Linked DNA regions of Homo sapiens. The gene in region 2 interacts genetically with the main gene of each other region. Each region holds a gene or a part of one and is shown on either strand. Other genes may lie near its edges.

What was found. Genes that interact genetically often act in the same process or in processes that back each other up.
Region 1: changes in CHEK1 (region 2) and PPP2R2A are lethal when combined (synthetic lethality), as found in Homo sapiens cells (one study listed by BioGRID).
Region 3: changes in CHEK1 (region 2) and ADA are lethal when combined (synthetic lethality), as found in Homo sapiens cells (2 studies listed by BioGRID, with this or other methods).

The regions. Positions count from the first base shown.
Region 1 is NC_000008.11:26,364,499-26,371,533, reverse strand, and holds part of PPP2R2A (serine/threonine-protein phosphatase 2A 55 kDa regulatory subunit B alpha isoform), read right to left. Parts: intron 5,220-7,035; coding exon 5,128-5,219; intron 1,401-5,127; coding exon 1,121-1,400; 3' UTR 1-1,120. UniProt on the Homo sapiens protein: Substrate-recognition subunit of protein phosphatase 2A (PP2A) that plays a key role in cell cycle by controlling mitosis entry and exit. Involved in chromosome clustering during late mitosis by mediating dephosphorylation of MKI67.
Region 2 is NC_000011.10:125,628,150-125,635,184, forward strand, and holds part of CHEK1 (serine/threonine-protein kinase Chk1), read left to right. Parts: intron 1-1,082; coding exon 1,083-1,147; intron 1,148-1,241; coding exon 1,242-1,311; intron 1,312-5,013; coding exon 5,014-5,202; intron 5,203-7,035. UniProt on the Homo sapiens protein: Serine/threonine-protein kinase which is required for checkpoint-mediated cell cycle arrest and activation of DNA repair in response to the presence of DNA damage or unreplicated DNA.
Region 3 is NC_000020.11:44,620,674-44,627,708, forward strand, and holds part of ADA (adenosine deaminase), read right to left. Parts: intron 5,927-7,035; coding exon 5,783-5,926; intron 5,012-5,782; coding exon 4,896-5,011; intron 3,657-4,895; coding exon 3,529-3,656; intron 2,406-3,528; coding exon 2,334-2,405; intron 2,258-2,333; coding exon 2,156-2,257; intron 1,980-2,155; coding exon 1,915-1,979; intron 475-1,914; coding exon 345-474; intron 1-344.

The DNA of each region.
Region 1 (7,035 bases), on a different chromosome or scaffold from region 2:
ATGTTTTATAAGTCTTTGACTATTTAGTAAGGCAAAAATGAAATTAAGCACTCTAAAAAGTAGAAATTAAGTTCTACAAATTTGGTTCCCATTTACAACAATTTCATTAACACATAATGAGTTAAATAGAGACACAATGTATCCAATACCCTCATGATGGTAAAAAAAAAAAAAAAAACTAGTAGCATTTATAGATTGTGAAATCCTTAATAAAACCTATATTCAAAATATGTTCATAGAGAACCAATACCTCTCCTCCTGCATGTAAAAGAACACTTGTTAAAAATAATTAACAAAAATACCAATAAACAATGAAAACCCATTTTGTTTCACTGTGCCCAAAGGTATGACACAAAATATTGGCTACAAGAGGTAGGTTAAAAAGAAAAAGAAAACCAGATTCTCCATTCTTTGTCACTTTTATTCAGTAGTAGGTTTTTTTTCCTTATTTTCAGTGCCAGACACGGCGAGGAGTGATTACAGCCAACTGTTACTAAAACATTTGTTTGCAACATATACCCCCTTTATACCACTGACCCCAAACTGACTCATTTTGTGTGCTTTCATTCTTTCTTTTTTTAATATACCACCACCAAGACCGGGTGGAGGGGGCAAGGGTAAGAGATGAAGGGGAGCAGTCCAGGAGGCCAGAAGAGGAGGAATGCTACAAGCCACAGTAAGAATGAGCTGTATTTAATTTAAAAAAAGGGGGAAGGGGTGTACCCCACAAATGATACAGTAATGAGGATACACAATTAAATCCCATAGCATGACTGAAGGCTTTCACTGTGTTTGACGTCATCACAATGGAAGGCATAAAAAGTGGAGTAAATCAATGTTGATACAGTCCAATCTAGTCCATTAGGCAAGATGGTGCAAGAAGTCATTTAAATTAAAAGTGCCCTACCCTTACCTAAATGGCTAGCAGACATGGAGAACACCACAGTGATGAATCCACAGAGCTTTCTCCATGTAGCTATAACAATGTGTTGTCGAATGGCACACTGTCAAACACTGGAAAGGGGCGCCACAATGGACCTCTCTCTTTTATAGGAACGAATGCTAGATTCAACTATCTCAACTAAGCAGGAAGTGGGTTCTTCTGCTAGGAATGCCAACCCTAATTCACTTTGTCTTGAAATATATACAGATTGTTTGTAGTAGCTACGGCAATGATATTTTCCTTGGGGTGCCAGGCTGTGTGAAGGATTTTCTTATTGAAGTCTAGGCTGTCAACACTTATTTCATCTTTCTTTCGCTTGCCACTTGCACAGACTTTGCGAGGCTTCAGAACTGTGCGAGGCTTATTGTTTTCCCGCGATGCTTCTAGGGTTATGTCTCGCTTTGTGTTTCTGTCAAACATTCTGAAGAAATTATTGTAAGATCCAGTCATGACAACACTGTGAAAATAGACAGTACACTCAGTCAAACAAGCAGAACAAGAAATTGTTTTCAAGTAAAATGATTCGGCAATTAAACCATAGGAAGCTACTTCAAAAGCAGATTTAAACTAAGGGACAGGGGCTGTTGACATCAACTCAATCACTAGAATAAACCAGAAATACGGTACTAATTAACTGGGTTTTCTGCTTATTCTTTTTATGGCTACCAAAACTATCAGCAAAGTTGACAGCATCCTCAAGTAAAACTTCTTAGGAGTGCAGAATTATCGTTGTTAAGTATTTTTGCAACTACAGGCTATGTGATCAACCAGGCCAGCCAGCTTCTCAAAGGAGCAACTATCTGTGGAACTCACAGGTTCTAAAACAAAAGAACCCCGCATGAAGTAGCTGTAGCTGTTCACAAGAAACCAATGCTTTATCTTATGATTTACATTTTTTGGGCCGGGCGCAGTGGCTCACGCCTGTAATCCCAGCACTTTGGGAGGCCAAGGTGGGCAGATCACGACGTCAGGAGATCGAGACCATTCTGGCTAACATGGTGAAACCCGGTCTCTACTAAAAATACAAAAAAAATTAGCCTGGCGTGGTGGCAGGCACCCGTAGTCCCAACTACTCGGGAGGCTGAGGCAGGAGAATGGTGTGAACCCGGGAGGTGGAGCTTGCAGTGAGCCAAGGTCGTGCCACTGCACTCCAGCCTGGGCAACTGAGCAAGACTCCGTCTCGGAAAAAAAAAAAAATTAGCTGGGTGTAGTGGCACGTGCCTGTAGTCCCAGCTACTCAGGAGGCTGAGGCAGGAGAATCCCTTGAACCCGGGAGGCGGAGGTTGCACTGAGCCAAGATTGTGCCACTGCACTCCAGCCTGGGTGACAGAGTGAGACTCTGTCTCATAAATAAATAATCTTCTCAGGGTATTGTCTGGTTCAGATAATCACATTTAATAAATGCTTATGTTATAATCTGCTCCTGAGAATATTAAGTGGTACATAATGTGTGTGTGTGTGTGTGTATAATTTTTTTTTTTTTGAGACGGAGTCTCGCTCTGTTGCCCAGGCTGGAGTGCAGTGGTGCGATCTCGGCTCACTGCAAGCTCTGCCTCCTGGGTTCATGCCATTCTTCTGCCTCAGCCTCCTGAGTAGCTGGGACTACAGGCGTCCGCCACCACGCCCGGCTAGTTTTTTTTGTATTTTCAGTAGAGACAGGGTTTCACCACGTTAGCCAGGATGGTCTCAATCTCCTGACCTCATGATCCGCCGGCCTTGGCCTCCCAAAGTGCTGGGATTACAGGCGTGAGCCACCGTGCCCGGCCTATATATATGTATTTTTCAAGACAGGGTTTCACTCTGTCACCCGGGTTGAAATGTGGTGGCACAATCACAGCTCACTGCAACCACAACCTCAACCTCCTGGGTTCAAGCAGTCCTTGCACTTCAGTCTCCTGAGTAGCTGTGACTACAGGCATATGCTGCCATGTCCAGATAATTTTTAAATATTTTGTAGAGACAGGGTCTTGCTATGTTGCCCAGGCTGTAATATTTTCTTAACAGAACATCATTTTACTTTTACCACTTAGAACATTTTAAGCAAATATTTATAAAAGTATCAGTTTAAAGGGGTGGCAAAATTTTTAAACTGCCCAAGACACTTCCTTGTCAGTTCTATTTGCCACCCATTACTGCTCGACATTTATTAAGTATCCTCACAAACAAAACTTCGTAAGTTTGAAGCTCTTAATTTGGAAAGGGTCTGCTACCGCTGCTTACCAATGGTTCAAATTATTATTGTAAATAAGGATTACAGGATACTGGGGAATTGTTCAAAGTAATACTTACATACAAAGGTCACCTACTGAGTACAAATTATTATCTATTTAGTAATGTCAATTCCCAAAGGACACTTGGCAACAACTTTAATCAAACTCAAGGTAATGCGTGCCCCTGAAGATGACAAAACTGTATTTCTTTAAAAATGGCTTGTGTAATTTAGATTGACATCCCCATATCATCTGAGTTTGCGTGGTTTTAATGTATTAGGACACCTAGGCTGTGGCTACTTGAAACTTTAAAAAGGTATCATTAGGCCAGCATTTCTGTGGTATTCCTGCCAAAAATGTATAGCCTGAATCTAATCATGAGGAAACATTCTATAAAATAACTGGCCTGTGTTCTTCAAAATGCCAAGGTCATGAAAGACAAGGAGAGACTGAGGAACTGTTTCAGAATAAAGGAGACTAACAAGAGATGACAACTAAATGCTGGATACTGAACCAGACTGACTTTGTTCTGTGCCATAAAGGACATAGTTACAGTAACTGGTCAGTTTCAGTGGGTCTCCGGATTAGATGGCAGTACTGCATCGCTGTGAATGTTGCTTTGGATGCTGCACTGTCACTATGTTGGAAAGTGTTTTTGTCAGGAAATACTCATTCAAGAATTTAGGGTTATGGGCATCACATCTGGCGTAAATGGAATAAATTCCCATGTGGCACACAAGTTGCATGTGAGCACATGCGCACGTACCTATGTGGACAAATATAGCTATAAATAAACAGAGAATAGAACACGTGATACAGCAAACAGCGACAGGGGAACCTGGGTCAAGGCCAGCCAAGAGTTCTTTGTGTTATTCTAACAAATTTTCTCTAAGTTTGAAATAGTTAAAAAAAAATTTTTAATATTAAGGAAAACAAATCGTTTTTTTCTGATAATAGAACATAAAACTGCTAATTATCTGCTTAAATACAATGAAAAACTGGTTGTAGCTGTGCGCCACACCTTATTTCAGTATCTCTTTACTCTTCAAATTTGTTAATCTTTTTTTTCTTCTTCCCTTTCCTTCTTTCTTCTTGATGCCTCAGGTTTAGTAGTAGCACTCAAAGGCAATGTTTGCTATTAACAGAACTCTAGGTTTACTAGTCCTTATGTCAAAAATCAGATAATTTTAAAAGCCAGATGAAAGAAAACATTCTATAAGTTCTATTATCCTCTGTAACACACAACACCATGAAATCGGAATCATATTAAGCTCTGTGATAAAACTGTTGTTGAAGTATCTCTGATTACTTTAAATGTCAGTTTAATTCCAAAATTATGTTTTACTACTTTCTGTTCTACTGGAACATAGTGGCAAATAGACAACTAAAAGACTCAAAGTAAGACTTATTTTATCTTTAAATAATGGGTAACATTTTACTAAAAATGAATACGAAAAAGGAATTACACTACGGCAAAACTGGAAATTATAAAAAGCAAAGGATAACTACTACTAAAATTTTAACCATATATATTATGGTTAACATCATACATAACATACATATGAAAGACCACTTCTATGAGGTGTTAATGTAGCATCTGGAAAACCTGGTGTTTCTAACAATCCAAATGAGTTATCTGCCGCCTGAATGTTTCTGCAACAGTTTAATGGAAGAATAACAACCAAGCTGAAGCTTCACCGTTTTAATGGTTAGCATGTCAGAAATGTGATCTGGTTCATAAAAGAAAAAAAATTCTAGACATTTAAATAATTTAGATTACCTAGAATTTGTGTACTTTTATATTTACTAGTGAAATACAATGCTTTAATTTTTTATCTACCAGTACTGCTGTGCTATATCTAAAATTACTAAATTTATTTCAAGGAATCCCTAGAGACGAAGTTAGGACCTGGAATGAAATAGTTGTTTCTTTTCTTTAATAAAATTCATATTTGAGAGGTTTGACTTAATTACCTGTCAGATCCATTCCAACAACATTCAAATTTGTCAAATATGCAGTCATTTTCATACAGTGAACAGAGTTTACTTCTGAGGTATTCATGCACCTGGGGGAAAAATACAAATATACTGCACTGAAATTAGGAAAATGATTTAACAAGTCCATATCTTTAAAAAGAAAAAAAGGGCATATACAGACACATACACACACCTTTTAAACCTATTAATCTCAATCTTCTCAGTAACAATAAAGGCATTTTGTCCTTTTACAAAACACACAAGCCCTTCAGGGAGGTACATTTTCCTACTGGTATGACAAAGGAAAACTCCATTCTGGGCATGGCACACATAGCCTTTATAAGCCTGAATAAAACATTCAGGCCAAAAACACTTGAAAATGGCACAGTTAAGAGACTAATAAAAGAACATTATAGCAATATCTGAATATCACTATTCTTGGCTTTCAGTCCATTAACTACTGATAACAACACTGAAACTGTGCCTATTTCTTTCTTAAATACCATTTTCTGGGCATAAATTTAACTGAAGCCTATATTTTCCATTATAAATGCACATGTATGCATAGCGTAACCATGCCTTGGTTTGGTGATAAATTATATGGTTATTCTGGGCATATATTATTAAAAATTTGATAGTATCATATTATACAATGTCAAAAGCTAACAAAGCTGTGCCTGTTTTTTGAATTATATAATTCTGTATTTACTAATATGTCAAAAAAGGATAAACTAGAAATCTCATATTTAAAAAGTCTGAGAAATATGACATATTTCAACATTAATATTAATTACAAACAAAAGTTCCAAAGTATTTGTTGTAACTCAAAGGAAAAAAGGAAGTGTCTATATTTCACCATCTCTTTTTAAGGAGCTACTTAAGGAGAAATGACAGAAATGAGAAGGTACCTTCTAAATGCTTAGAATTCTCTATTCTATATGAAACAATCTAAACTTATTTTCAGTGTCTATTTTAACTTTAAATATAGTGGAATGATTCAGGCCATGTCTCTGTGACATTAAGTGAAAATCTGTAATACAGAGGAATAGCAACTCATGTGGGGTTAGGATCAAAAGTGAGCATGTAACACAAAAAAATCAGTAAGAAAAAAATACCCTTCAATCACACAAAACTTGGCAAGATGCTGGTACAAATTCAATAAAAATAGTTTTATCTATATATGATACATTTGCCTATAATGTGACTACTTTTAATCACTACTCCAACTGTTTATAAGTAGAAAAGTAGCAAATCAGGTAAAATTAGGTAGATTATCATAATTTAGCAACATTTTAGAATGCACATTATAGAGTTTCTCACTATACATCAGTATGAAGCTAAGCTTCAAATCAATTCTTCTCAATGGGAATGAAATGATGGTGAGGGTAACTAGGAGATATATCAATCTTGGCAGTTACACAAATAGAAGTCTTTTTTCAGTATACACGAGGGATGGGTTCCAAGAACCCCAGGTATACCCAAATCTGCAGTTAGCCCTGCGGAACCCACACGTGAAGTTTTGGCCCTCCATATATTTGAGGGGTTTGCATCCCTCAAATATTGTATTTTCAAATGTGCATTGGTTGAACAAAACAAAACAAAAAATCTGTGTATGAGTGAACCCATGCAGTTCAAATCCATGTTGCTCAATAGTGAACTATACTTTGAAAAGCAAAGCAGTATTTTGTCTTTTGTTTCAGTGCAGTATTTATTTTGAAATTTCACGTATCAAAAACAATCTTCGTTTATGTTTGTCAGAGGATTTAAAGTTTGAGAAACATACTTCCCAGTCTATTGAGAATATATAACATAAAGAAAGTATATGTATAAATTAGAGTTAAGTGATTTCAACACTGCAGTCTAGGGCCTAGCACAGGTTTGTGCTGTCCCTCACCCTGTTCCAGG
Region 2 (7,035 bases):
AATTTTTTCTTTGTAGACATTCTAGTTACATGAAATCATTGTATACATTTTATACATTTACAGATCTAAAATAGCATGCTGTTTCCTCTTGGTTTACATGAAATAATTGAGAATTTTCTAGGATTGCTTTTTGTATATTAAGTAAATTCTATGTTTGCTATTAATACTTAAATATTCGATGTAGAATCAAAGGATTGATATTTCAGAACACTGAGAAGTACATAAAATCTGGATCTAAATTTATAATTTAAATTTATAATTTAAAGCTATTGTATTAAATAAGTTTATCAGTTAAAAACTGATAAAGAGGTATTAGGATCTCCAGTGTGACTCAGGAGAGAGTTGAGGGTAAAAGAAATGGAGTTAATGAGAGAGATCAAAATATAAAAAGATAACTGATAAAAGAACTTTCATAATAAAACTGTTTCACGAAGGACCTCACAGGCATTTGTGGTTTTGTACTGTGAGACTATATGAAGTTTAAATCTGAGCCAGGTGTGGTGGTACATGCCTGCAATCCTAGCTACTTAGGAGGCAGGAGGATTGCTTGAGCTCAAGAGTTCCAGGTTACAGTAAGTTATGATCTCACGCCAGGGCACTCCAGCCTGGGTGAAAGAACAAGACCGTATCTCTAAAAAAAGTTAAATTATAAAAGAAGTATAATCTGTAAAATATTTAGTGAAATTGGCTTAGATTTGCCCAGACTTCCCCTTTGGCATTATATTTCAGGAATGAGAAAAATAATTAGCATAGCATTTAGAAGAAATGGGGGGAATTTCAAGGTTACTAAATAAATCAGGGTTAGTATAAGAGGAAGCAGAGGCTTTGAAGTCATGGCTTGCATTCTTGATTTGGATATTGGTTTTCTCTTTATAATTTTTCTGTGATGACGCCTTTTGCCACCTAACACAGGTAAATGTGAGTTAAGCCCCATATGTGTTAGTGGACTCCTGAATCTTTTGTTGGCATTTGCTTCTGTTTGCCTAAGCACATTTGTAAATGTCTAAGCTTCAAATTAAGAAGCTATGTGGTTGCTACCTGATTATATTTAGTCAATAAACTTACTTTCATATTTGTTTTAGAGCCAGACATAGGCATGCCTGAACCAGATGCTCAGAGATTCTTCCATCAACTCATGGCAGGGGTGGTAGGTATAGTTGTCTATTTCCCTTTTACTTAAAATTAGAGTGAATACATTACATTACCAAATTCTAGTGTGTTTCTCTCTGCATCCCTCTTAGGTTTATCTGCATGGTATTGGAATAACTCACAGGGATATTAAACCAGAAAATCTTCTGTTGGATGAAAGGGGTAAGTTTAGCATTTTATCACTACCTAAAATAAAATAAAATAATTACCTAAATTATTTTAATTACCTAATTATTTTAATATAGCCATACAAGGCAAAATCAAGTCTTTTTGCATTACTGGAATTTCAAGACAAGATCTGAAAAATCAAGGAAATTTTGGAGACTTCGTATATTTGGAAATCACAAGTCTCATTTTGCAATACAAGTGCGGATCAGGTAGAGAAATCTGACCTAGGTGCAAGCCTAGCTCACTATATGTATAAGAATAATTTTTTTTTTTTTGATACAGGCTCACTGTGTTGTCCAGTCTGGGGTGCACTGTATTATCACAGTTCACTGCAGCCTTGACCTCCTAGGCTCAAGCAATCCTACCATCTCAGCTTCCCGAGTAGCTAGGACCAACCACAGGCAGGTGCCACCATGCCTGGCTAATTTTTGATTTTTTGAAGAGGTGGAGTCTTCCTGTGTTGCTCAGGCTAGTCTTGAACTCCTGGACTCAAGCAGTTTACCAGCCTTAGCCTCCCAGAGTGTTGGGATTATAGACGTGAGCCACCATGCCTGGCCAAGAATAGTTTAAAATAATCCTTTAATGGATTAATAAAGGGAAGTTCCTGTGGAATACCCTGGACCTTAGTCTTGTCCTGTTCACTCTTTTTTTATGTATGACGTGGATAAAAATGTAAGAAATTTAGTTATATTTTCTGAATGTCATCAAATTGAGAAGGATGGATAGCGAAAGCTTTAAGCTTACAGGGTCAGAATCAAAAAAGAAATGTCAGCTGTATGAGGCAGTAGTTTTTGTCTGGTTTAATGCTTTATTCTTAGTATTAGAATAGTGCTTAACAAATGGTCAGCTTTTTTTTTTTTTTGAAACAGAGTCTTGCTGTGTTGCCCAGGCTGGAGTGTAGTGACATGATCTCGGCTCACTGTAACCTCTACCTCTCTGGTTCAGGTGATTCTTGTGCCTTAGGCCCCTGAGTAGCTGGGATTACAAGCCTGAGTCACCACACCTGGCTCATTTTTATATTTTTAGTAGAGATGGGGTTTTGTCATATTGGCCAGGCTGGTCTCGAGCTCCTGGCCTCAAGTGATCTGCCTCCCTTGGCCTCCCAGAGTGCTGGGATTATAGGTGTGAGCCGCTGTACCCAGCCTATACATGCTTTTTTCTTATGTGCATATGGATTTTACTTTTTACCCCTTTAAACTGAGTTTATATGACATAAAAATCTTTATTTTTATTTAAAACTTTAAAAATTCAGGTACACAAAAATTCTTATGTATTATAATGAAATGTAAATATATGTATATCAACCCACCTGGTTTAAAAATACAACATTATTCGTATATAAGAATGCTCACAGTGGTGATGTTTTTAATATAGCAGGAAACTAACCCAAATGTCTGTCAACAATAAATTATGAAATGCATGGCTTTTCAAGCCATGTCACAAGCAGTGACACAAGCATGTCACAAGCAGTGACATGGATGAATTTCAGGTATATAATGATGTAGAGCAAAAAGAGACAGTTGCAAAAGAATTCATATGGTCTGATTCTGTTTATACAAAGTTCAAAAATATGTAAAACCTAGTATATTGTTCAAGTATGTAAACATGGAGAAAAAAACATGCAGAAAAGCAAGGGTATAATAAAACCAAATTCAGAATGGTCTAAGAAAGTAGGGGAGGGAATGTATTTAAGGAAGTATTTAAAGATTTCAAAGGAAATAGAGCATTGTTTTTCTAAAGTGAGTGGGTGTTTATTACATTGTTATTCTTTATATCTTGTATTAATATACAAGATATAATTCTTTGTTTCTATTTAATATTTAGGAGTCTTTTAAAAAAAGAAATAAAATGTTACCAGTATTTAATGTCCTCCTGTTTATTTCATCACAAATATATTCTTCCTTTGTTTTTCTAAGAGCTAAACACATTCCTACATTTAAATTTTATTATGTGCAGTTCTCTAACATAGCTGAGTATTATGTTGCAGACATAACAAAGTCCAAGGAATACTATAGTTATCCATTAGTATTTTAAGTGATTACTACTCATAAGTAATTTGAAACTCAATCTCAGTGGTTTGTCCAATAGTGTCATATTTAACTACTGAAAAGATAATCAACTGGGTGCAGTAGCTCATGCCTGTAATCCCAGAGGCTGAGGTGGGACGATTGAGTGATTCTAGGAGTTTGAGACCAGCCTAGACAACATAGACCCTGTCTTTATGAAAAATTAAAAAAAAAAATTAGCTAGACATGGTGGTGCACACCTGGAGTCCCAGCTACTTGGAAGGCTGAAGCAGGAGGATTGATCACTTCAGCCTAGGAGGTCAAGGCTGCAGTAAGCTGTGATCACATCACTACACTCTAGTCTGGGCAGCAGAGTGAGACACTTTCTCAAAAAAAAAAAAAAAAAAAAAAAAAAAGGGTAATCACAGTAGCTACCTCCTAAGTCAGATAGAGGTAAACATTTCATTGGTTTACATATTGTGTGAATGTACTTGATTTTTAAAGAAATCAGTCCCCTATTTTGAGACATTTAAGTTGTTTCTAACTTATAAAATAGGACAGTGATGGCTTCTATCAATTTGTGTAAAAGGCCAATATAAAAATTGCGTCATGCTATAATATTTTTTATGCTATAATATTTTTTATGCCATTAGCCTTTTTGTCCCACTTACACACTATTTCATGTTAGTATGTATAGATATACCTTGTTGATTGTTTTCAAAACCTACCTCCACATTTTCCATTGTACAAATTTGGACATTTATTTACAAATAATATTGCTATGAATATTCTTATGTTTATGAATTTGTGGGATTATTTCTATGGATATAGAAGTGGGAATTGCTAGTTCAAAGAGTGAATGTTTCACAGTTTAGTATGTTTTGCCAAATTGCCCTCTGATAATAGAGGGCCTTTTCTAACTCTTAAGACTGGGTTACATTCCTTTGCTCTAAGATCCTATAGTGCTCTATATTTTTATAACCTTCATAACAGTTTTCTATTGTCAGTCTTCACTAATTTATCTATTACCTGCATTGGCTGGCATAGTGTCTGTCACTAAGTTACAGTAGATATTCACTAAACATAAGTTAAGTCCTGCCTGCAGTTTTTGTGTGTTGAAGATGGGAAGTTAGGGTGGAAGTTGGGTCTTCTGATATTTTTTTTTTGTACAGAGTTTGTCCTCTTTTTCTCAGACTCTCTACTTTGAAGAAAAAAATTACTGTGGTTTGTTGAATTTTGGTGTGTCTTCACATATTTTCTTCTGCCAACTGGGTTTGTTTGCTGCTGAGAAAGTTGTGCCTAACATACTACTGATGTTTCCTTCCTGCCCTCCACCCTACCTGATGAGGGGCCTTGCTTTACTTTCATCTCAGGTTTAGAGTGCTCTTTTCCAGAAGGGCAGCCCCTTCTGACTCCAGCCTCTTTCTTTAATCTGGTCCAGACTGTTCTGTGTGTTGATAATACTTCTTTTAAGTTAATAGAAGAGGTGAGGCCTTTTTCTACTTTTAGCATAGATGATGATTTATTTTATTTTTTTAAATTTCTTTTTGTCTATTTTGCTTATTTTAAGAGAAGTTCTACAAACCTTAAGTAACACCAGTGATTTTTTTTCAGTAAAACTTAATTCCTGTAAGTATATCTATTTGCAAAACATTTTTATTCAGTGTCATCTTTTTTTCTTTTGGTTTAGATAACCTCAAAATCTCAGACTTTGGCTTGGCAACAGTATTTCGGTATAATAATCGTGAGCGTTTGTTGAACAAGATGTGTGGTACTTTACCATATGTTGCTCCAGAACTTCTGAAGAGAAGAGAATTTCATGCAGAACCAGTTGATGTTTGGTCCTGTGGAATAGTACTTACTGCAATGCTCGCTGGAGGTAAGAGCTATTTAATCATGGTAAAACTCCTATAAAAAGTCAGATTAGTTATACTGAAATAAATGAAATAAACCAAGGAATTCATGTTTATATAATAGTTTTTGTTTTCTTTTTTAAGAGACAGGGTCTCACTCTTGGCCAGACTGGAGTACAGTGAGCTGTTATAGCTCACTGCAGCCTCAAACTTCTAGGCTCAAGCAATCCTCTGGCCTCACTCTTCCAAGTAGCTAGGACCAGTGGTGCCTGCCACAAGACATCTGGCTAAGTTTTAAAAATTCATTGTAGAGATGGGATCTTGCTGTGTTGTCCAGGCTGGTCTTAAACACCTGGTCTCAAGCAAGCCTTCTGTCTTGGTCTCCAAACTGTTAGGATTAAAGTAAAGACATGAGCCATGGTACCCAGCTTTTATAGTAGTATTTTAATAGTGTCTTGATCGGTTTGGTAACTGCTGTAACAAAGTATCATAGACTGCATAGCTTATAAACAGCAAATTTATTTCTCACAGTTCTGGAGGCTGAAAATATGAGATTAGGGGTGCCAACCTGGTCATGTTTTAGTGAGGGCCCTCTTCCTGATTTGCAGATGGCTGTCTTGCTGTGCTCTCTCATGGTGGACAGCCAAGAGAGCAGAAGCAAGCTCTATTGTGGTTTTTTTTTTTTTTTTTAGACCAGAGTCTTGCTCTGTCACCCACGCTGGAGTACAGTGATGTGATCTCAGCTCACTGCAACCTCTGCCTCCCAGGTTCTAGCAATTCTGTCCCAGGCTCCCAAGTAGCTGGGATTACAGGCATGCATCATCACACCCGGCTAATTTTTGTATTTTGAGTAGAGACAGGGTTTCACCATGTTGGCCAGACTGGTCTCAAACTCCTGACCTCAAGTGATCCCCCAACCTCAGCCTCCCAAAGTGCTGTTTTTTGGGTTTTTTGTTAAATGACCAGATGTTGTGAGATATTGTGTCTGTTTTTTGTTTTTTTGTGGTTTTTTTTGAGACAGGGTCTCACTCTATTGCCCAGGCTGGAGTGCAGTGGCACAATTCAAGGCTCACTGCAGCCTTGAGCTCCCAGGCTCAAGCGATCCTCCTGCCTCAGTCTCCTCAGTATCTGGGTCTACAGGCGTGCACCACCACACCTGGCTAATTTGTTGTGGGTTTTTTTTCACAGACGGTCTCTCCATGTTACGTAGGCTGGTCTTAAACTCCTGGGCTCAAGTAATCTGCCTACCTAAGCCTCCCAAAGTGCTGGGATTATATAATTAGTGCCCTATAAAGATACAATATTGTCCGGGCACACAAGCCCTTATTAGACATTAATAAGCTCTTAATAAGAGCACTAATACCATTTTTTGAGTGGTCCCATCACCAGGACCTAATTACGTCTCAAAGGCCCCACCTCCGAATGCCATTGCATTATGAGTTAGGATATCAACATGACTTTTGAGGGGGATACAAATATTTAGCACATTGCAAATAGTAACTTATTTATAATCCCAAAGATTTTTTAAGCTAAGGCATGCATAGTTATTAAATATCACAACACTTATCTCTCCTGTGTATCATGTAAACATTTGTGAAAACAAGACTAGGGCAAGAAATGATTCATCTGTTTTTTGGTTTTTTTTTTTTTGAGACAAAGTCTTGCTCTGTCGCCCAGGCTGCAGTGCAGCAGTGTGATCTTGGCTCACTGCAGTCTTGACCTCTTGGGTTCAAGTGATCCTCTCACTTTAGCCTCCTGAGGAGCCAGGACTACAGATGCACACCATCACGCCCAGCTAATTTTATTTATTTTTTGTAGAGATGGGGTCTCACTATGTTGCCCAGGCTGGTCTTGAACTC
Region 3 (7,035 bases), on a different chromosome or scaffold from region 2:
GACACGTGCAGGAATGGACTTATTCAGCCTGGGATTTAAGAACAACCTGAAGAGAGTGTGCAAGACTTCATAGCTGCTGCACACACCTTTCTGGGGAGAGGGTTGACAGCTTTCACTGGATTCTTTAAAGGCACTCAACCCAAGCAAAGGATCAAAAACCTGGTCCTAGGTCAGGACGTCAACACAAAGATGTCTTCTCTGTGGAAAGTGTCTAGGTTGGGCTTGTCTTGGACTGTTGAGGCAGACTCACTCCCTCTCTCCAAAGATTCCAGGCCCCGGACTGGACCTGTAGATACCATACTCCCAAACCCGAGTCAAGGCCAGTATGGCTCACACCCACTCACCAGCCTTTTAAACTCCTCTTCAGTAAAGCCCATGTCCCGTTTGGTCATCTGGTAATCAGTGTCCAGGGTGGACTTGAAGATGAGCGGGTCATCTGTGTTGAGCGAGTAGTTAGCCTGGTCATTTTTGAGCCTGCAGAAGAGGGAGGAGGAGAGAATCAGCCTCCTTTTACTCTTACATAAATAGTCAGAACACATTGACGTTCACCCGCCTTTGATCCTCACAGCAGCCTCAAACAGATCTGAAAGATCTGATCCTTGTGCAGAGGGGGAAATAAATTCAGAACTTAGGTGACTTGTTCAAGTCTATGTAACCAGAAAGTCCAGAATCCAGCCCATCCTGAAGACCAGAGCTGGGCAAAGGCAGCAGAGGGGCCAGACATGGGAACCAGGCAGAATGGCAGCCGGTGGGGGCGTGGGGGTGGGAGCCAAGAAAGCAACATCCCCCTCCGGCTGCCACCCTCTCCAGCCTTCCCCTCTGCACCCTACCCTGCTTGTTCCTCAGTCCCACTGGGAGCTGGCTACTCCAACATACCATGGAAGCTGTTCTTGGCACGATCCCTGACCACCATCTTGTTGTATCTAATGGATCTTTCCTAGCTCTGACCATAATCGACTTGCATAGCAGAATTTCACACTGTTGACTGTTTCTTGAAACCTTTTCCCTGGATTTCTGTGACACCACACTTTTGACTTTCCTCCTACTTGTCTCTTTTGCTGGTCCCTTAAATACCATTGTCCTTCTGGGTTCTATCCTAGGCCCTTCTTGCTCCACCACCTCCTGGGGCCACTGCTTCTCCTTCAGCCACCATATCTGTGCAGATGACTCCTGGATCTTTTTCCAGCCCATGGTATACCCACATGCCTCCAAGAACCTCCACAGGTGCCACGTGTCCCTAAGGCAAGCCCCAAGACCCCCTTGTCATCAGAACATCAGAGCCGAAGCCCCTCCCCTTCTCATATGCCTGGCAGATGGATAAGTGCTGGCCTGACCATGGTCACCCTGAGTTCTTGCTGTCCTTGTCTTGGGGAAGGCGGCTTTTTCCTAAGGCCTGATACTGCTCCTGTGGCTTGGCGACAGGACGGAAGGAGGGCCTTGACCCTGGTTAGACTCCAGGATGGGAGCCAGGCAGGGTGGAACAGACCCTCCGGTGGAAAGCTTCAAGATGGCGCTCAGGGGAATGCCCAGGGGTCCCAAGGGCCAGGTGTCAGGAAGAGAGAACATGCTGGCCAGAGGGACTCCTGCTTCCTATGCGATGCCCAGGGGGCAGAGTTGGGAGAATTGGAAGTGTGGAAGCTTCCCTCAGAGTAATGGAGCGTTCTGCTCCAGCTGATGAGCTGTAGGGCCCCAGCTCTGCTGGTTAGCAGCTGGGTAATCCCAGTCAAGCCACAGCACATCTGGGCCTCGGATTCCTCATTTGTAAGATGAGGACGGCAATGCCTGCTTCCCAGGGTGTCGAAGAGATTTCATATCTAAAAGACGCGGCATGGGCTGATGCCCAATCCCTAAAGTTTCTTCCCTCTTTGGCCTTCCTGGAACAAAATTGAACAGGCCCAGGGGAACAGAGCTCACCGAATGACTGCATGCTCCGTGTCCGGCTTCCAGGCACCAGTGAGGTAGCTGGACCAGGGGCAGATCTGGAAGAGCAGGTGTGTGGCTGGCAGGGATGGCCCCAGGCCATGCTGATTCCTCCCCCCATGTCTGGGCCTGGGGCCACCCCTCGAGTTCCTGGGACCCGCCCTGCTTTCTGCCTCTCTATACAGGAAGTTGGGACAGCCGGGGATGGTTCCTCCCCACTCCCTGGCCCGCTTACCTCGAAGTGCATGTTTTCCTGCCGCAGCCTGTTATAAAGGGCCTGGTCTTCCAGGGTGTGGTAGCCGTGTCCCAGCCGCTCTGTCTTGAGTATGTCCACAGCCTGTAGAGAAGCAGAATAGAGCCAAGTATGGGAGGAGGCAGTGAGGAGGGACCCCATGGCCAGCCCAGGCCCTCACCTCTTTTACTACTTCGGCCGAGCCCACCTCCCCGGCGTGGACAGTACGGTGAATGCCGCTCTTCACAGCCTCCTGGAAGGGGGAGAGCCAGGTCATGGGTGCCCTAGCGGGAGGGCCCCGGCAGGCCCTGCCTTGACCATGCTGTGGAGATTGAACCATCCTAGTCATGCTGCCTGCTTCAACAGCATGGGGAAACCTGGTCTTTTACCCTCCAAGTCCTTATCTAAGTGGTAGCTGTCACTCATTAGCCAGTTACCATGTGTCAGGTAGTATATGAAGTGACTTGTATACATTATCTAATATTCACAACTATTATCCCACCCATTTTATGATGAAGGACTGAAGCTCAGGAGATTCAAGTAATGTGACCAAGGTCAGACAGGAAGTGTGGAACCAAGCTCTGAGCCCGGGCAGTGGGACTCCAGAGCCCTGACTTCTCCACCATGCTGCACCCTCCACAGGAGGCCCATTCATCATCACGCTGGAAGCGACTTTTGAGATGTCGGCTCCAACTCAGTCATCCCAATAGAAGAAACAGAGGCCCAGAGAAGACACAGTGTTGCCCAGGTTCACACAGCAAATCACAGCCAGAAGCAGGCTCAGCACAGGACTCCCAACACCAAGTGGAGGCTTTTCTTTCTCTCTCCCTTCCTTCCTTCTTTCCTTCCTTCCTCCCTCCCTCCCTTCCTCTTTTTCCTTCCTTCCTCTCTTTCTTTCTCTTTCTTTTCTCTTTCTTCTTTCTTCCTTTTTTTTTTTTTTGAGACAGGGTCTCCCTCTGTCACCCAGGCTGGAGTGCAGTCGCATTATCACAGCTCACTGCAGCTTTGACTTCCTGGACTCAAGCAATTCTCCCACCTCAGCCTCCCAAGTAGCTGGGACTACAGGCATGCACCACCATGCCTGACTACTTTTTTTTGTATTTGCAGAGATGGATCTCACTATGTTGCCCTGGCTGGTCTCAAACTCCTAGGCTCAAGCAATCCTCCTGCCTCGCCTCCCAAAGTGCTGGGATCACAGGCATGAACCACCACGCCTGGCCCAGGGGGATTCCAGTTCCAAGCCTTAAGACCCAACAAAGACACACTTCAGAACTCAGGAGACACCATGGTCCCTGGTTCTTGTGATTTCTCCCAACTATGGGTGGGAGACAAGCTCACCCAGGGCCAGCCTCTCCATTCCTTCTCACAGGACCCACCTGGTAGGCCTGGACATGTCCAGGCAAGAGGCTGCTTCCTGGGATGGTCTCATCTCCAGCCAGGTCAATGGCTACCACGGTCTGCTGCTGGTACTTCTTACACAGCTCCACCACCTTGGGGGACCAGTCTGTGGGCGAGATGCCCACCCAGGCTCTGTCACCAGCACCATGGAGAGACCTCCCAGCCTACCTGCCTGCTGTCCCACCCAAACCCCCCATGGGAGGCCAGCACAAAACAGGGCTCAGTGTCTTCAAATCCTAACTGCTATGTCCTAACCACATGGCCTGCGGAAAACTGCTCTGCTTATGGCCTCAGTTTCCGCCCTTTTCAGAAAGAACCCTGCCAGCTATTGCACAGGGTCACGGCCAGGCTTTGCCGAGGCCATGTGTGTAAAGCACCAAGGACGGGGCCTGAGCTCAGTAAATGACACGGACCCTTCTCTCACCTGGTGTTTCCAACAACACTCATGGTAGGCTTATTCCCATGCGCAGATGAGGAAACGGAGGACCGTTTAACACGTCATCTAAAATAGAACTCACACTAGTATTGGGAAGTATCTCGCTAATGTATTAGGTACTCTTAACCAATAAAGTTATTCTGAAGTGTTTAAGAAAGAATGAATGAACACAGGCTTTGGAACTAGATGTCCCCGGATACAAATCCAGGGTTTGTGCCTTGCAAGAGGCTGCACCTCACTCCACCTCAGTTTCCTCATCTGTCAAATGGGACTAAGCAATGGTAGTTCTGCTTTGCAGGCTGCTGCGAGGATTAGAGGAAATGCGTGCAGGTAGCTCTTTGGTTCTTACTAATCCTGAGGGTAGAGGAATGAAGTAAGTGTGATCATCTCCTTGTGACAGTGCACAACTGAGGTGTCTTGGTGCATAACCAGAGCAGCAGTGTGACCTGCCCAATATCACACAGTGAGGCTGTGCACCATGAGGCACAAACTCTAGAGATCTGATCTGCGTCAGTGACAAGGGAGACCCCTCAGAAATCTTGGAAATCAGACCTATTCAGGCCCAGACAGGATGGGGCCTGGTCCACTGGGTCTCGAGGGAGGACTATGGGCTGATCAGAATCTAGCCTAGATTTTTTTTTCAATAGTTACGTTCCTATTTGGTGTTGAGCTTCCTGCAGGGTGGCTATAAAGGCATGGTGTCCCTGGGGAGAACATCTCCAGAAGTTCTGAGCCTGCCTAGGAGGTCTCCAGTTGTTTCATGAAGCCCCAAGTTCATGCCAGTGGGCTCAAGGGGACACCATGGGGCTGTGGGGCACAGGGGAGATCAGGTACAGCCCCACTGCTAGGCCAGGAGGTCAGGGCCAGGGTGAGACGGGCGGCCCTGGGCAGGGCGGTGATCCTACTCACTGGGCTGGTGGCGCATGCAGCACAGGATGGACCGGGCCTTGACCCCGAAGTCTCGCTCCCCCTCCTGCAGGCCCTGGCCCACTAGGGCCACCACCTCGTCTGGGGTGAGGTCCCCTCTGTGTGAGGAGAGGAGTAGGGATGGGCCTGAGGCAAAAGGAAGGCCTAAAGGGCAGCTCTGGGACTGGGACAGAGGAGGAAGAGGAGGCTTTGGGGAGGACCCTCCTCCCCCACTGACCCACTGCCTCAGAGGAAAGACTGGCAGAGATGCCCCCAGGCCCTAGCATGTCCCTCTAGCTCTTAAAGCAGCTGGGTGCTCCTAGATCTTAGTGGGAGGTGTGGGGTGTCAACATGGCCCTCCCCACCCCCAGATGGACAGCATTGCTAAGCTTGGGCCTGCCATGATGTTCACATTCTATATGTATCAGAATCATGGCTCAGAAAATGGGGCAGGGTGGTTTTGTGATACCACTTAGAGATCCATGGGGGCCCAGGCAGGGGGCTAGAAATGGGCCAGACTCACTTCAGTTATGAAGTTAGAGCAGGACCTTTAGGGCCTTTAGAGATCTGATCAGCATCAGTGACAAGGGAGACCCCTCAGAAATCCTGGGTGGCTAAGCAGGTTAACATTCCTGGACAGCAGGCCTGTGGCCAGAGCAAGACACAGCCAAACACTTGTGCCCAAGGTAAGAACATAACGGCAAAGGGAGGATGGGAACCACGTCTCTTGTGACAGAGTTAAACCCATCTTTCTGAGGCCATGGACCAGACTGGGGGCAAGAACAAGGTCTTGCTTGGGTCAGGGATTCCCAGCAGTTCGCCCTTCCAGTCTCAGAGCTGAGCCTCCCAGCCACACCCTCAGCATGGCCCCTTCCAGGCCCATCACTCACTCAGCCTGGTTCCAGGGGATTGGCTCCACTTTGGAGTTGGCCAGCAGGTGCGGACTGTACCGCACCTCCACATACACCACGCCCTCTTTGGCCTTCATCTCTACAAACTCATAGGCGATCCTTTTGATAGCCTCCCGGCAGCCCCTGGGAAGGGAAGAAAGGGGTTGGGAACAACCTTCCCCAAGTCCCTTGGGAGCTCCAGGAGCAAATGACATCCCCAACCCTTGGCAGATTAAACCCACTTCATCCCCCAGACCCAAGCTCTGGGCATCCACTGGATAAGATCCCAGACACTGGGCAAGTCCTATCAGCTCTACTTTGGAACTGCATACCAGTTCTCACCCCTCCATCCTGGCCTGAATCACGCCATCTCTAACTGGCCTCCCTGTCTCCATGCTTGCCCCTGTCATCCTGTTCTCCACCCAGCAGTTGGGGCAATCTTTTAAGAAGGTAAATCAAAGCATATCACTTCTCCCCTCGAAGCCCCAGTAGCTTCCTGCCACGGAGAGTGACATCGCAACTCCCAGGTCCTGCCCACAAGGCCTGCATCCTCCAGGCCTTGCCAGCCTCCCCAGCACCTTCCTTCTCCCTCATTCCCTGAGGCCACCGGAGAAGACACAGGCCTGCTCTTCCCCGATACTGTCCTACACTGCGTCTCTCCCGCTCCCCTGGTTTAGAGCCAGCTGAAGCTTCACCTCCTCAGAGAGGCCTTCCCTGACCACCTTATCTTTTTTTTTTTTTTTTGAGACAGAATCTTGCTCTGTCGCCCAGGCTGGAGTGCAGTGGCGCCATCTCAGCTCACTGCAGCCTCTGCCTCCTGGGTTCAAGTGATTCGTCTGCCTCAGCCTCCCAAGTAGCTGGGATTACAGGCGCATGCCACCACGCCCGGCTAATTTTTTGTATTTTTAGTAGAGACAGCGTTTCGCTGTGTTAGCCAGGATGGTCTCGATCTCCTGACCTCATGATCCGCCCACCTCAGCCTCCCAAAGTGCTGGGGATACAGGCGTGAGCCACTGTACCTGGCCCAGACCGCCTTATCTTAAAACGGCCCCTCCACCATTCTCCTGGGCTTTCTTTTTCTCCCAGGTCCTTATCACTACTCAACATTGTGTGTCATATGGCTTATCAGCCAGTTTGCTGTATTCCCTACTAGAATGCAGTCTCCATGTGGCAAGGACCCCTCTGTCTTGGGATGGCTGCGACCTCTCAGCTGAGGACCATGCCTAGGACAGAGTAGCCCAATATTTGTTGGT